2 linked regions of the Homo sapiens genome follow. The protein of the gene in region 2 purifies or fractionates together with the protein of the main gene of each other region. This does not show direct contact. Each region holds a gene or a part of one and is shown on either strand. Other genes may lie near its edges.

Evidence for each region. Proteins that work in one complex are often made in the same cells at the same time.
Region 1: the proteins of F2RL1 (region 2) and HSDL2 purify together in Homo sapiens (affinity purification with mass spectrometry; 2 studies listed by BioGRID and IntAct, with this or other methods). This does not show direct contact.

What each region holds. Positions count from the first base shown.
Region 1 is NC_000009.12:112,376,089-112,383,128, reverse strand, and holds the start of HSDL2 (hydroxysteroid dehydrogenase-like protein 2), read right to left. Parts: upstream 3,022-7,040; 5' UTR 2,966-3,021; coding exon 2,949-2,965; intron 1-2,948. UniProt on the Homo sapiens protein: Has apparently no steroid dehydrogenase activity. Controls bile acid (BA) and lipid metabolism in response to nutritional cues.
Region 2 is NC_000005.10:76,822,025-76,829,045, reverse strand, and holds part of F2RL1 (proteinase-activated receptor 2 preproprotein), read right to left. Parts: intron 1-7,021. UniProt on the Homo sapiens protein: Receptor for trypsin and trypsin-like enzymes coupled to G proteins.

The DNA of each region.
Region 1 (7,040 bases), on a different chromosome or scaffold from region 2:
GCACTCAAGCCTGGGCAACAGAGCAAGATTCCATCTCAAAAAAAGAAAGACAGAAAGAAAGATCTCGGTTTAACTCAAAGGCATACAGAGCAAGATTCCATCTCAAAAAAAAGAAAGACAGAAAGAAAGATCTCGGTTTAACTCAAAGGCTTACAGAGCAAGACTCCATCTCAAAAAAAAAAAAAAAGATCTTGGTTTAACTCAAAAATGCAAAAGCCTTAAGAGACTGATAACTCTGGCTTCACAAAAACATGTTTCTCCATGTTAAATAAACAGTATAATCAAAGTCCAGATGCAACATGAAAAACTGTGGAAAATATTTGTAATGTGATAAAAGACAAATTTTTAAAATACACAGAGCCCTCAGAGATTAACGAAAAACCTCATTTGTTAAGCCAGACAAATATAAAGATACATAGATGGCTTTAAACCAGGGTTTCTCAACCTCTGCACTACTGACCTTTTGGACTACATAATTCTTTGTTGTACGGAATGCTTGTGAATTGTAGGATGTGCACCAGCATCCCTGTACTCTACTCACGAGATGCCATTAGCATCTCCATTCAATTGTGACTATCAAAAATGTCTTGAGATATTACCAAATGTCCTCTGGGGATCAAATTGTCCCTGGTTTAAATACACAAAGAGATCCAAATCCACACTTGTGATAAAATAAATGCAAATTTTAACAATAATGAGGTGACACTTTTTTCTCTAATTAGATTTTCATCATTAACTATTTTGCGGTTAGCCAACAAGTGGGATTAGAGGATCTCATTTATCCTTTTGGGTGTGCAACCCTTCTGGGGGGTCATCTGGAAATATCTGTCAAAATATAAAGTGCATTTCCTCTTTTTTCTTTTTGAGACAGACTCTCACTCTCTCTCGCAGGGTGGAGGGCAGGGCAGTGGCATGATCTCGGCTCACTGCCACCTCCGCCTCCAGGTTCAAGCGGTTCTCCTGCCTCAGCCTCCTGAGTAGCTGGGATTACAGGTGCCCGCTACCAGGTCCAGCTAATTTTTGTATTTGTAATTTTTGTAATTTTGTAGTTTTAGTGGAGACGGAGTTTCACCACGTTGGCCAGGCTGGTCTCGAACTCTTGACCTCCAGTGATCCGCCCGCCTCGGCCTCCCAAAGTGCTGGGACTACAGGCGTGAGCCACTGTGCCCAGCCACATTTACTCTTTGATCCAGCAATTTCACTTCCAGGAGTTTATCCTACATATACACTTATATATGTGCAAATAGATAAATACAAGTATAATTATGGAAGCAAAAAAAGAGTATCCAAAAAACTGGAAACAGTCTAGTATCCAACAATAGGGAACAGGTTAAATAAACAAAGGTATATTCATATACAGGTTGAGCAAACCAAATCTGAAAATCTGAAATCCGAACACGTCTGGAACCAAGCATTTTGGATAATGGATACTCAAGCTGTTACAGAATATTATGCAACCATTAAAAAGGAGGAGGGGCCAGGCGCAGTGGCTTACGCCTGTAATCCCAGCACTTTGGGAGGCCGAGGCAGACGGATCACGAGGTCATGAGATTGAGACCATCCTGGCTAACATGGTGAAACCCCGTCTGTACTAAAAATACAAAAAAATCAACAGGGCGTGGTGGCACGCGCCTGAAGTCCCAGCTACTCGGGAGGCTGAGGCAGGAGAATTGCGGGAGGCGGAGGCTGCAGTGAGCCGAGATCATGCCACTGCACTCCAGACTGGAAGACAGAGCGAGACTCCATCTCAAAAGAAAAAAAAAGGAGGCGGAAGATCTGCCATGTACTAAAAATGTATGTCCCTGGGCACAGCGGTGCATGCCTGTAATCCTAAATACTCCAGAGGCTAAGAAGGGAGGAACATCAGCCTGGGAGTTCAAGGCTACAGGCCAGTCTGGGCAACATGGGAGACCCCGTCTTTAAAAAAAACAAAGAAAGAATGTCCCAAGACATACCAACTAAAAGTAGCAAGACCAAGAATAGAGTCTGCTGCTATTTTTAAGAAAGGGTATGTGTGTGTGTGTGTGTGTGTGTGTGTGTATCCGGATGTATACAAATTATGTTCATACATGCACGAAATAGAAACGTAAGTAACTGGGGAACTAGATTTTAGGGATGGGGAGACTCACTTTTTACCCTATACTCTTTGAACTGTTTTAAGTCTTTGGCTATATGCCTGCATGTTTCAGGCAAATTACAAAATCTGACAACACGTCACTCAACTCAAGATACCCAGACCTTACATAAACCAGAAAGTAGAATGGTGGTTGCCAATGTACGAGCGGAGGTGGGGAAGAGGAGTTGTTTCATGGATAGAGTTTCAGCTTGCAGATGAAAAAAGTTCTGGAGATTGACTGCACAACGATATGAATCTACTTAACACTACTGAAGTGTACACTTAAAAAACGGTTAAGATGGCAGATTTTGTACGTATTTTAACACAATTTTTTAAGGTGAAAAAAAAATCCCCCAAAGATACCCATGTTTTAAGATCGGTTTAGTTTCTAATTTGGAAATCATTTTTTAAACACTCCATTATTACTCTAGAATTGAGCGTCAGGAACAAGTGAAAACTCTTTAAACTCTGGAGCTGCTCCTGCGACCTTTCACCTAGAACTCACACGCATTCGGCCAGGCACGCACTCCTGCTAAACTCAGGGAGGGCCGGCACTGGGGGCGGCGTGGTGACTCCCCCTCGGCCCTTTACCCGTGGAAAAGGTTTCTACACTGCTGCCATCCTGTAATACAAAAGTTTGTGTTCCTTTTCACACGTTACCGCAGATTCTCGGTGCACAGTGCCCAGCGCGGACCAGAGCTCAGAGCGTGCCCAGGCAGTATCCTTGACCTCCCACAGCCGGGCCGGCCAGCCCGGGCGATCCGCGGCGGCCCCACCGAGACGCGCCCTTCGCCCGACAGGGTCTCTCCCCGCGCCGCCCCTACCCCCTTACCCGGTGTTGGGTAACATGACTTTCGTAGATCAGAGGAGGTGGCGGCGACAGCGGCGGCGGCGAGCAGAGAGCTAAAGCTGGACCGTCCCTCCGCATTTATCCCCGCCCCTGCCCCGCCCCTGCCCCCCCCGATGCCTGTGCGGGAACTGCGCGCGGAAAAGCCGGGATCGCCGAGTGCGCCTGCGTATGCAGTGGGCCTCCTGCGCCCAGCGTTCCTCTTCGTCGCCTCCCAAGCCTGGTCCCTGATTGCAGGCTCTCCGCGCAGGCGCTTTGAGGCACAGCTCCGCCCCGCCCCCTCACTGGTCGTACGGTGACAATCAGGCTCCTGTCGGCGCCTAGCGTCTGGGCAGCGTCAGCCGCTACGTCCACCTTTTCCCTGTCTCTAGGGGTTTCTCCTCGCGCCGCTGTGTTCCAGCGCCGGCTCCGAGCTGGGAGGGTGACTGAGCCCTGAGCTTGGGCCCTCCGAGAGGTGCGTTAGCTCTGGGTCTTCTTGCCCCTACGCCCGAGCCTGGCGTTCTCTCGGCCCCCTCTTAGGAACGCTAGCCCTGGGCAGAAATTGCCTTTGTGGCTGAAGTCGGCCAGCGTCGCGTTTCCACTCTCCCGCCGAATCTGGACCCAAGCCAGCCTTCCCTTGTGCATCGGTAGATAGCTTGTGTTAAGGCGCCAGCTTCTTGGAACAGAGCTCTCTGCAAAAGTCGCGCTGAAGAATTCATAGTCAAAAGCTGAACTTGCAGAAGTTTCTACTTCTGGAATGAGTGTTGAAATGAGATCAATTCTGACATTCAGTTTCGCTTTTGGGATTATGCCTTGGACTAACTCAGCTACTCTGATGAGCTAAAGACTGTAGTATATTTGAAGGAAGACACGAGGAACTGTTTTGTATTTTGTAGGGATAGAACAGGACCTTGAGGAGATTATTATATGAAGACTAGTTAAAGAAACTAGCCTGGAGATGGCTTATGTACTCTCTCCTTTGTTTTTGTTTTGTTTTTTGAGACGGAGTCTCGCTGTCGCCCACGCTGAAGTGCAGTGGCGCGGATCTCGGCTCATTGTAACCTCCGCCTCCCGGGTTCAAGTGATTCTCCTCCCTCAGCCTCCGGAGTAGCTGGGACTACAGGCATGCATCACCACGCCTGGCTAATTTTTTTGTGTTTTTAGTAGAGACGGGGTTTCGCCATGTTGGGCTGGCTGGTCTCGAGCTCCTGACCTCAAATGATTGGCCCGCCTCGGCCTTCCAAAGTGCTGGGATTACAGGCGTGAGCCTCCGCGCCCGGCCTCTCTCCCCTTTGTTATGGGCCCTAAATGACTCTATTTCCTCCTGCATATCACCTGCCCGACTCCTGTAGGCATTTGAATTGATGATTCATGATACGGTCTTTAGAGGCTCCAGAGGAATTTGCAAATTATTATCATCCACTAAGTGATTGCTGATTACCTGAGATACAGCAGCTCAAAAAGGACAAGGTCTCTGCCTATGGGAGGTATGAGTAGCCAGTGTGTTCTTTAGACTGTTGTTAAGCATTAGGTGTTTTAAGAAGAGTGTTGATAGAGACTGTTAGATGAAAATAACTTACTCTCCTCTCATCCTTAGGAGCACTTGCTGAAGCGTGTATATATCTGTCGAATAGAGTGAATTCTTAGTAACGGGGTGACATTTCCTTCATATCATCTAAAATGTTCTCTCCTTTTTGAAAGCCACAATATCTTCAGTCTGTTAGAGCCTCCTTTCTTGAATTTGTGTGCTTCTATTTCCATTTGTTACGGAAAGAGAGCTCAACGAAGAGGCAAAGCAAACAAAAAACCTTTGCCAATTTTTCAGTCATAACGATATTTTGTGAGCCTAAATACCTGTACTTACACTATTTTTATACTTTGCGATGGCTTTCACAGAAGGCAAATATATTCCTAAATTATTAGAGGTAGTTTTACCAAGCAAGTTTAAATCCATTGTATTCAGTACTTTGACTAGAGTTCATTTAAAGTGTGATTTGGAGTTACCCATGACCTTCTACCCCATTACCTTGATTAACCTAGTGTTAGATTAATGCTAGAGGTGAGGAATGGGTGAAGGAGAGGACTTGTGAACATAATTAGATCTTCATTTTGGAAGGTGAATAATTTTGGCTTAGAACACTTCTGACTGCAGCATGAAGAATAGTTTGTGAGTAGATAAAGGCACAGAAGCCATTTAAAAGCCCATAGTAATGTAATGTGTAAGAAAAGTAGTAACCTGAACTAAGGCAGTAATAGTAGAAATGAAAAGACATACTCAAGATATGGAACCTGGCAGATGTAACTAATGATTAGATGTAGGAGCAAAGGGGGAAGATGGTATCAGTGGTGACCTTCAGATTTCTGGTGTAAAGTCCTGGGAGGATGGTGATAACACAGTAAAGAAGTGAAAACAAATGGTTTGAAAAATAGATGTCTTGAAAGTCAGGTAAGTCTCACTCATTTCACCCCTTCTCAGCTTGATAAAACTACCTAAAAATGCAACAGTTTCCTGACAGACTACTGGTTACAACACATTCTCCCAACCAATTTATATCCCTTAAGTTTTGGTTATATGCAACATTAATGTAATTTGGCTAATTTAAACCAAATTAAAGGGGTTGGAGAATTTAGAAGAATTCTGGGATAGTTTATATAACTTAAGGAAGAGCTGAACAACTAAGCTTGACAATGGGAACTAAGGTGCTTCCATGATCCTCAGCAGCATGATCTTTCTAGAATGCATTGTAGGTGGCTTCCCTGTCTTTTCTGTGTATCTGTTCAAGCTTCAAATACTAAGACAGTCTAGTACAATGTGTTTCGTTTTGTTTTGTTTTTTTGAGATAAGATCTTGCTCTGTCACCCAGGCTGGAGTGTAGCAGCATGATCATGGCTCACTGTAGCCTCAACCTCCTGGGCTCAGCCACCCAAGTAGCCAGGACCACGGGCATGTGCCACCACACCTGGCTAATTTTACTTTTTATAGACACAGGGGTCTCACTATGTTGCCCAGGTTGGTCTTGAACTCCTCACCTCAAGCAATCCTCCCACCACACAGCCTTCCAAGGTGCTGGGAAATGTTTCAACCTGTAAATTAGTTGGCCATGGCCAGGGACACAAGTGGATATGGACAATGGGGAAGTAACACAACATTGCATACCTACCTACCCCAGGTCATGGAAGTTGCGTAAATGTAGAGCAAGTAAATTGGCATTCATAATTCTGGGAAGAAAGGGGTCATAAAACTTTTTATTTCATAGGGCTTGTGATGGTTAATACTGAGTGTCAACTTGATGGTATTGAAGGATGCAAAGTATTGGTCTTGGGTGTATCTGTGAGGGTATTGCCAAAGGACATTAACATTTGAGTCAGTGGGCTGGGAAGGGCAGACCCACCCTTAATCTGAGTGGGTACCATCTAATCAGCTGCCAGTGAATATAAGACAGGCAGAAAAACCTGAAAAGATGAGACTGGCCTAGCCTCCCAGCCTACATCCTTCTCCTGTGCGTTTATCCCCTTCTTGCCCTCCAACATCAGACTCCAGGTTCAGTTTCGGGACTTGGACTGGCTCTCCTTGCACCTCAGCTTGCAGATGGCCTATTATGGGACCTTGTGATCATGTGAGTTAATACTTAATAGGCTGGGCGCGGTGGCTTATGCCTGTAATCCCAGCACTTTGGGAGGCCGAGGCAGGCGGATCACAAGGTCAAGAGATGGAGACCATCCTGGCCAACGTGGTGAAACCCCATCTCTACTAAAAATACAAAAAGTAGCTGGGCGTGGTAGCACACACCTGTAGTCCCAGCTACTCGGGAGGCTAAGGCAGGAGAATCGCTTGAACCTGGGAGGCGGAGGTTGCAGTGAGCGGAGACCACGCCACTGCACTCCAGCCTGGTGACAGACCGAGACTCTTTCTCAAAAAAAAAAAAAAAAAAAACTTAATAAACTCCCCTACACACACACACACACACACACACACACACACACACACGTATATAAGGAAGTAATAGGATATATATATATATATATATATCCTCTAGAGAACCCTGACTAATACGGATTTTGGTACCAGAAGTAGGGTCCAGAACAGGAGAAGGCTCT
Region 2 (7,021 bases):
CTCCCAGGTTCAAGCAATTCTCCTGCCTCAGCTTCCCAAGGAGCTGGGATTACAGGTGCACACCACTACATCCAGCTAATTTTTGTATTTTTAGTAGAGATGGGGTTTCACCATGTTGGTCAAGCTGGTCTCGAACTCCTGATCTCAAGTGATCTGCCCACCTGAGCCTCCCAAAGTGCTGGAATTACAGGCATGAGCCACTGCACCCGGCCTAAAATAACATTTATAAGACAATTAGAAATTTGAACACAAAGCCAGGCACGGTTGTTCATGCCTATAATCCCAGTGCTTTGCGAGGCTGACGTGGAAGGATTGCTCGAGGCCAAGAGTTTGAGACCAGCCTGGCCAACATAGCAAGACCGTGTCTCTACAAAAAATTAAAAAAAAAAAAAATTAGCCAGGCATGGTGGCGCACACCTGTAGTCCTGGATACTTGGAAAGTTGAAACAGGAAGATCACTTGAGACCAGGAGTTCAATGATTCAGTGAGATTGTGCCACTGCACTCCACTCTGGGTGACAGAGTGAGGCCCCTGTCTCTATATTAAAAAAAAAAAAAAAAGAAAGAAATTTGAATACTGACTGAATATTTGATTATATTAAAAATTAATGTTAGTAGATACTATAATGGCATTATGTTTATATTTGAAAAAGAAATCCCTCATACTTTATTAATACATTCTAAAATACTTTAGGATGAAATTATATCTGAGATTTATTTCACAACCACAGGAATTGAAACTCTCAGACACTGCTGGTAGGAATACGAACTGGTGCACGGCTGGGCAGAGTAGCTCACACCTCTAATCCCAGCACTATTGGAGGCCGAGGTGGGTGGATCACCTGAGGTCAGGAGTTCGAGACCAGCCTGGCCAACATGGTGAAACCCCATCTCTACTAAAAATACAAAAATTAGTCAGGTGTGGTGGCATACACCTATAATCCCAGCAACTTGGGAGGGTGAGACAGGAGAATCATTTGAACCGGGAGGCACAGGTTGCAATGAGCCAAGATCACGCCATTGCACTCCAGCCTGGGCGACAGAGTGAAACCATGTCTATTTAAAATAAATAAAATAAAATAAAATAAAAGGTACAGTTATTGTGGGAAATTATCTGGCAGTTCCTCAAATGGTTAAAGAGTTCCTATATGGCTGGACGCAGTGGCTCACGCCTGTAATCCCAGCAATTTGGGAGGCTGAGGCAGGCAGATCACGAGGTCGGGGTTTTGAGCCCACCTGGCTAACATGGTGAAACCCCATCTCTATTAAAAATACAAAAATTAGCTGGGTGTGGTGGCACACGCCTATAGTCCCAGCTACTCGGGAAGCTGAGACAGGAGAATCATTTGAACTTGGGAGGCGGAGGTTGCAGTGAGCCTAGACTGTGCCATTGCACTCTGGGCAACAGAGCATGACTCCGTCTCAAAAAAAAAAAAAAAAAAAAAAGTTACTATATGACCCAGTAGCTCCACTCCCAGGTATGCAGGAGTCCACACAAAAACCTGTACACAAATGTTCATAGCAGCATTATTTGTTTTTGTTTTTTTTTTGAGACGGAGTCTCGCTGTCGCCCAGGCTGGAGTGCAGTGGCGCGATCTCGGCTCACCGCAAGCTCCGCCTCCCGGGTTCATGCCATTCTCCTGCCTCAGCCTCCCCAGTAGCTGGGACTACAGGCGCCTGCCACCACGCCTGGCTAATTTTTTTTTTTTTTTTTTTTTTTTGTATTTTTAGTAGAGATGGGGTTTCACAGTGTTAGCCAGGATGGTCTCGATCTCCTGACCTTGTGATCCGCCCACCTCGGCCTCCCAAAGTGCTGGGATTACAGGCGTGAGCCACCACGCCCAGCCATAGCAGCATTATAATATAGCACTGTGCCCAGCCCACAGTCAACAAGTGGGCTGGGCACAGTGGTGCTCACCTGTAATCCTATCACTTTGGGAGGATGAGATGGGAGAAGTGCTTGAGGCCAGGAATTTGAGACAAGCCTGGGCAACAGAGCAGAACCCCATCTCTACAAACATTTTACAAAATTAGCCAGGCATAGTGGTGCACACTTGTAGTCCCACTACTAGGAAGGCTGAGGCAGGAGGACAGCTTGAACCTAGGAGGTCAGAGATTACACCACTGCACTCCAGCCTGGGCAACAGAGCAGGACCCTGTCTCAAAAAAAGGAAAAAAAAGTGGAAACAATCCAAATGTCCATCAACAATTGAAAAGAAATAAAAAGCAGTATATCCATACAATGGAATATTATTTGGCTGTTTTCAAAAATCAAGTACTTGGGAGGCTGAGGCAGGCAGATCACCTGAGGTCAGGAGCTCAAGACCAGCCTGGCCAACATGGTGAAACCCAGTCTCTACTAAAAATACAAAAATTAGCCAGAGGTGGTGGTGTGGGCCCACAGTCCCAACTACTCAGGAGGCTGAGGCAGGAGAATCACTTGAAACTAGAGGCAAAGGTTGCAGAGATTGCACCACTGCACTCCAGCCTGGGTGACAGAGCAAGACTCTGTCTCAAAAAAAAAAAAAAGTACTGATACATAGATACATGGATGAATCTCCAAAAGATTATGCTAAGTGAAAGAAGCCAGTCACAGAGGACAACACATTATCCCATTTCTATCAAATGTCTACAATAGGCAAATCCATAAATAGAAAGTAGATTAGTGTTTGCCAAGGGCTAAGACCAGAAGATTGGTGAATGACAGCTAAACTGTTTCTTCCAGGGTAATAAAAATGTTCTAAAATTGTGGTAATGGTTGAATAATTCTATGAACATCCTAAAAGCCACTAAATTGTACAGTTTAAAGGGGTGAATTGTATGGTGTGCAAATTATCTGATATGGAATTCTTGGTAAAGCTGTTAAAAAAAAAACACAGGCTTGGCATCATAGGAAAGGGAAAAAAACAGAAAAGAAATAACAGGGAAGAGGAGTGGGAGGTGAGTTTGGGAATAGATGAAACAAGATTAGCCAACAGTTAATAATTATTGAAGTTGAGTGGTGGATACACTTAATTCACTATAATAGTATATTTCTATAAGATTAAAATTCTCCATAAAAATAAGCATGTACCAAGTCAGGAAAGCTCACATAAAGAGTGCTCAAAATCTGTTTTAAATAAGAATGCTAAAATAAAGACCAAAAAAGGAGCAAGGAATGGCAATATAACAATTTTTTTTTAAAAAGGAACTTTTTCTTAGAATATTTCAACACATAACCTTTAATGGTCTCCATCAAAACTATTGTTGATATTAACTGTTCTATAACACTGGTAAATGTCAAGATGCTACTCGAAGGTCCCTGAAGCCCTTGCCCAGTGCATTTGCTCTGACTCTGTACAGGGTCCTTACCACTCACCAAAACTCACAGAGCTTGTCTAGAGAACCGATGCTATCCCAGCTCCCAATTGTCAACCAGGTAAAATCATTTCTATTTCACAGAGTTGAGGAGAGACTAAATGCACAAATGAAGTTTAAACACAAATAAAGTGCCTGGCTACAATTACATTCCCATTTCTAGGGCTGTAATAAACAATTATTGCCCAAGTGTGTGAAAATACACACTCACAGATGCTCAAGGCAGCATCCCCCCACTCAGTTACAGACAAACAGCTCCTTATTTCTATTCCTAACTTAGCATGTCCCTGACGTAGTCCCTACTACTAAGGGTAGACAATATAGTAGCCAATAATATTGAAATGGAAAGACAGCCACAATATACAGTCAATTGAAAAAAGAAACTGGCCAGGCATGGTGGCTCACACCTGTAATCCCAGCACTTTGGGAGGCCGAGGCGGGTGGATCCTGAGATCAAGAGATCGAGACCATCCTGACCAACATGGTGAAACCCAATCTCTACTAAAAAATACAAAAATTAGCTAAGTGTAGTGCACGCGCCTGTAGTCCCAGCTACTCCAGAGGCTGAGGCAGGAGAATCGCTTGAACCCAGAAGGCAGAGGTTGCAGTGAGCCGAGATCATGCCACTGCACTTCAGCCTGGCAACAGAGTGAGACTCTGTCTCAAAAAAAAAAAAAAAAAAAAATTATAATGTACAATTTGCAAAATCTGAAGTCTAGAAGGATATCCACCAAACAATAAAAAGTGGCTGGCTCTGTGGAGTAGAATAGCTGGGGACAAGAGAACTTTTCTTTTTATTTTACACCTCTCTATATTATTTGAATTTTGTATCTCAAAGGAATATAAATTGATATAATATTTTTGGTGGGTAATTTGGCAAAACATATCAAAATTTTAAATGTATTTGCCATATGACCTAGCAATTTACTTCTAGGAATTTGCCCTGCACCTACCAGCTAAAGTGCACAAAGCTATTTTATGTACTAGAATATTCACTGGAACATTGTTTAGCATGGTAAAACAATGTTAATTTCAACATCTATCAAAAAGGGGAGTAGTTCAGGCCCTGGCAGGGTGGCTCACGCCTGTAAACCCAGCACTTTGGGAGGCTAAGGCGGGCGGATCATGAGATCGGGAGTTTGAGATCAGCGTGGCCAACATGGTGAAACCCCGTCTCTACTAAAAATACAAAAATTAGCTGGGTGTGGTGGCGGGCACCTGTAATCCCAGCTACTTGGGAGGCTGAACCTGGGAGGCTTGAACCTGGGAGGCGGAGGTTGCAGTGAGCTGAGATCACACCACTGCACTCCAGCCTGGGTGACAGAGCAAGACTTCATCTGGGGTTCGGGGATGGGCGGGAAGAGGGGAGTAGTTCAGGCCAGGCATAGTGGCAACCTAGCCATAGCCCCAGCTACTTGGGAGCTCCGTCTAAAAAAAAAATTAGCTGGGGGTGAGCTATGATCCTGCCACTGCACTCCAGCTTGGGTGACAGCCAGACCCAGTCTCTTTAAAAAAAAAAGGGGGGGGGGGTGTGGTGGGGAGGACTAGTTCAATTACCCCCCTATAAAAGTTTGTACAGGGTCGGCGCAGTGGCTCACGCCTGTAATCCCAGCACTTTGGGAGGCCGAGGCAGGTGGGTCACGAGGTCAGGAGACCGAGACCATCCTGGCTAACACGGTTAAACCCTGTCTCTACTAAAAATACAAAAAATTAGCCGGGCATGGTGGCGGGCGTCTGTAGTCCCAGCTGCTTGGGAGGCTGTGGCAGGAGAATGGCATGAACCCGGGAGGCAGAGCTTACAGCGAGCTGAGATAGCGCCCCTTCACTCCAGCCTGGGCGACACGGCAAGACTCCGTCTCAAAAAAAAAAAAAAAAAGTTTGTACAGATTTCTATAAACTGACTATGAATCGATTAGGTAAAAAAGATAAATAAATCATAGCACAGTATGTACAGTACGGTATGCTCCTTCTATTCCTATAAATCATTTGTGCATAGAGAAGTTGAGCTGATGGCCAGGAATAGTGACTCACACCTATAATCCCAGCACTTTGGGAGGCCAAGGCGGGCGGATCACTTGAGGTCAGGAATTCAAGACCAGCCTGGCCAACATGGCAAAATTCTGGCTTTACTAAAAATGCAAAAATTAGCTGGAGGTGTTGGCGCGCATCTGTAATCCCATCTACTTGAGAGGCTGAGGCAGGAGAATCACTTCAACCTGGAAAGCGCAGGTTGCAGTGAGCTGAGATCACATCACTGCACTCCAGCCCTCCAGCCTGGGCGACACAGCGAGACTCCATCTCAAAAAAAAAAAAAAAAAACCAACCAACCAAACAAACAAAACCCGAGAAGTTGTGCTGAGATTGGAGACCAGAAAGAATGAGAGATTTTCACTTTTTTTTAGACCCTTCTGATTTACACAATTTTGGGAAAATCTGCGTGTAAAACTTTTTTTTTTTTTTGAGACTGAGTCTCACTCTGTTGCCCCGGCTGGAGTGCAGAGGCACGATCTCGGCTCACTGCAAGCTCGACCTCCCGGGTTCACGCCATTCTCCTGCCTCAGCCTCCCAAGCAGCTGGGACTACAGGCGCCCGCCACCATGCCCGGCTAATTTTTTGTATTTTTAGTAGAGACAGGGTTTCACCATGTTAGCCAGGATGGTCTTGATCTCCTGACCTTGTGATCCACCCGCCTTGACTTCCAAAGTGCTGGGATTACAGGCGTGAGCCACCACGCTTGGCCTAAAACTTTTAATTTAATTTTTATTTTAAGTATACTCCTCTTGTGGCCCAACCTCCCCATCAAACCAAGTGTAAAACAAGCACTTTACTTGCATTAGTTCTCTTCCTTTCACCCTCTCTTCTCTATGATCCCCTCACCCCAAATGTCCTTTTTTGCTCCCAATCTTTGGGAGCACAGACTGAAAAATAAAGGTTTCAATTGTGGGGTGCCCCTCCCTAGCTAAACTTTTAGTACATTTTCAGAAGTGTTCTTTCAGAATGAACTGTTTTCTTCAACACTTGCCAAGCTAATAAAACCATAAGAAAGTCAAATACAGATTTACTAAAACATCATCTATCAAGGTTATTTAGTAACTACAAAGCAAGCAAAAGGATCAAATTTAAAGTCCTATCTTCCAGTTCATTGCAGTGTTCTGTCATATTACAAAACTTTGGCCAGGCACGGTGGCTCATGCCTATAATCCCAGCACTTTGGGAGGCTGAGGCAGGTGGATCACTTGAGGTCAGGAGTTCAAGATCAGCCTGGCCAACGTGGCGAAACCCCGTTTATACCAAAAACACAAAAATTAGTTGGATGTGGTGGTGTGCGCCTGTAGTCCCAGCTACTCCAGAGGCTGAGGCATGAGAATCACTTAAACCTGGGAGGCAGAGGTTGCAGTGAGCCGAGATCGTGCCACTGCACTACAGCCTGGGCAACAGAGTGAGATTCTATCTCAGGGGGAAAAAAAAAATGGAAATACCACATGTCTATCAACAAAGGACTAATTTTAAAATTGATGCATCCTTCTGTAACATTTTGGAGTCATTAAAAATGTTTTATATGTATTGACATGATACTGATGTGCTTATATAATCCCATACTTGCACAAACATATTTTCTGTATTTGTGAATACATATTTTGTGCATGGATGTAATAAAGAGTGGG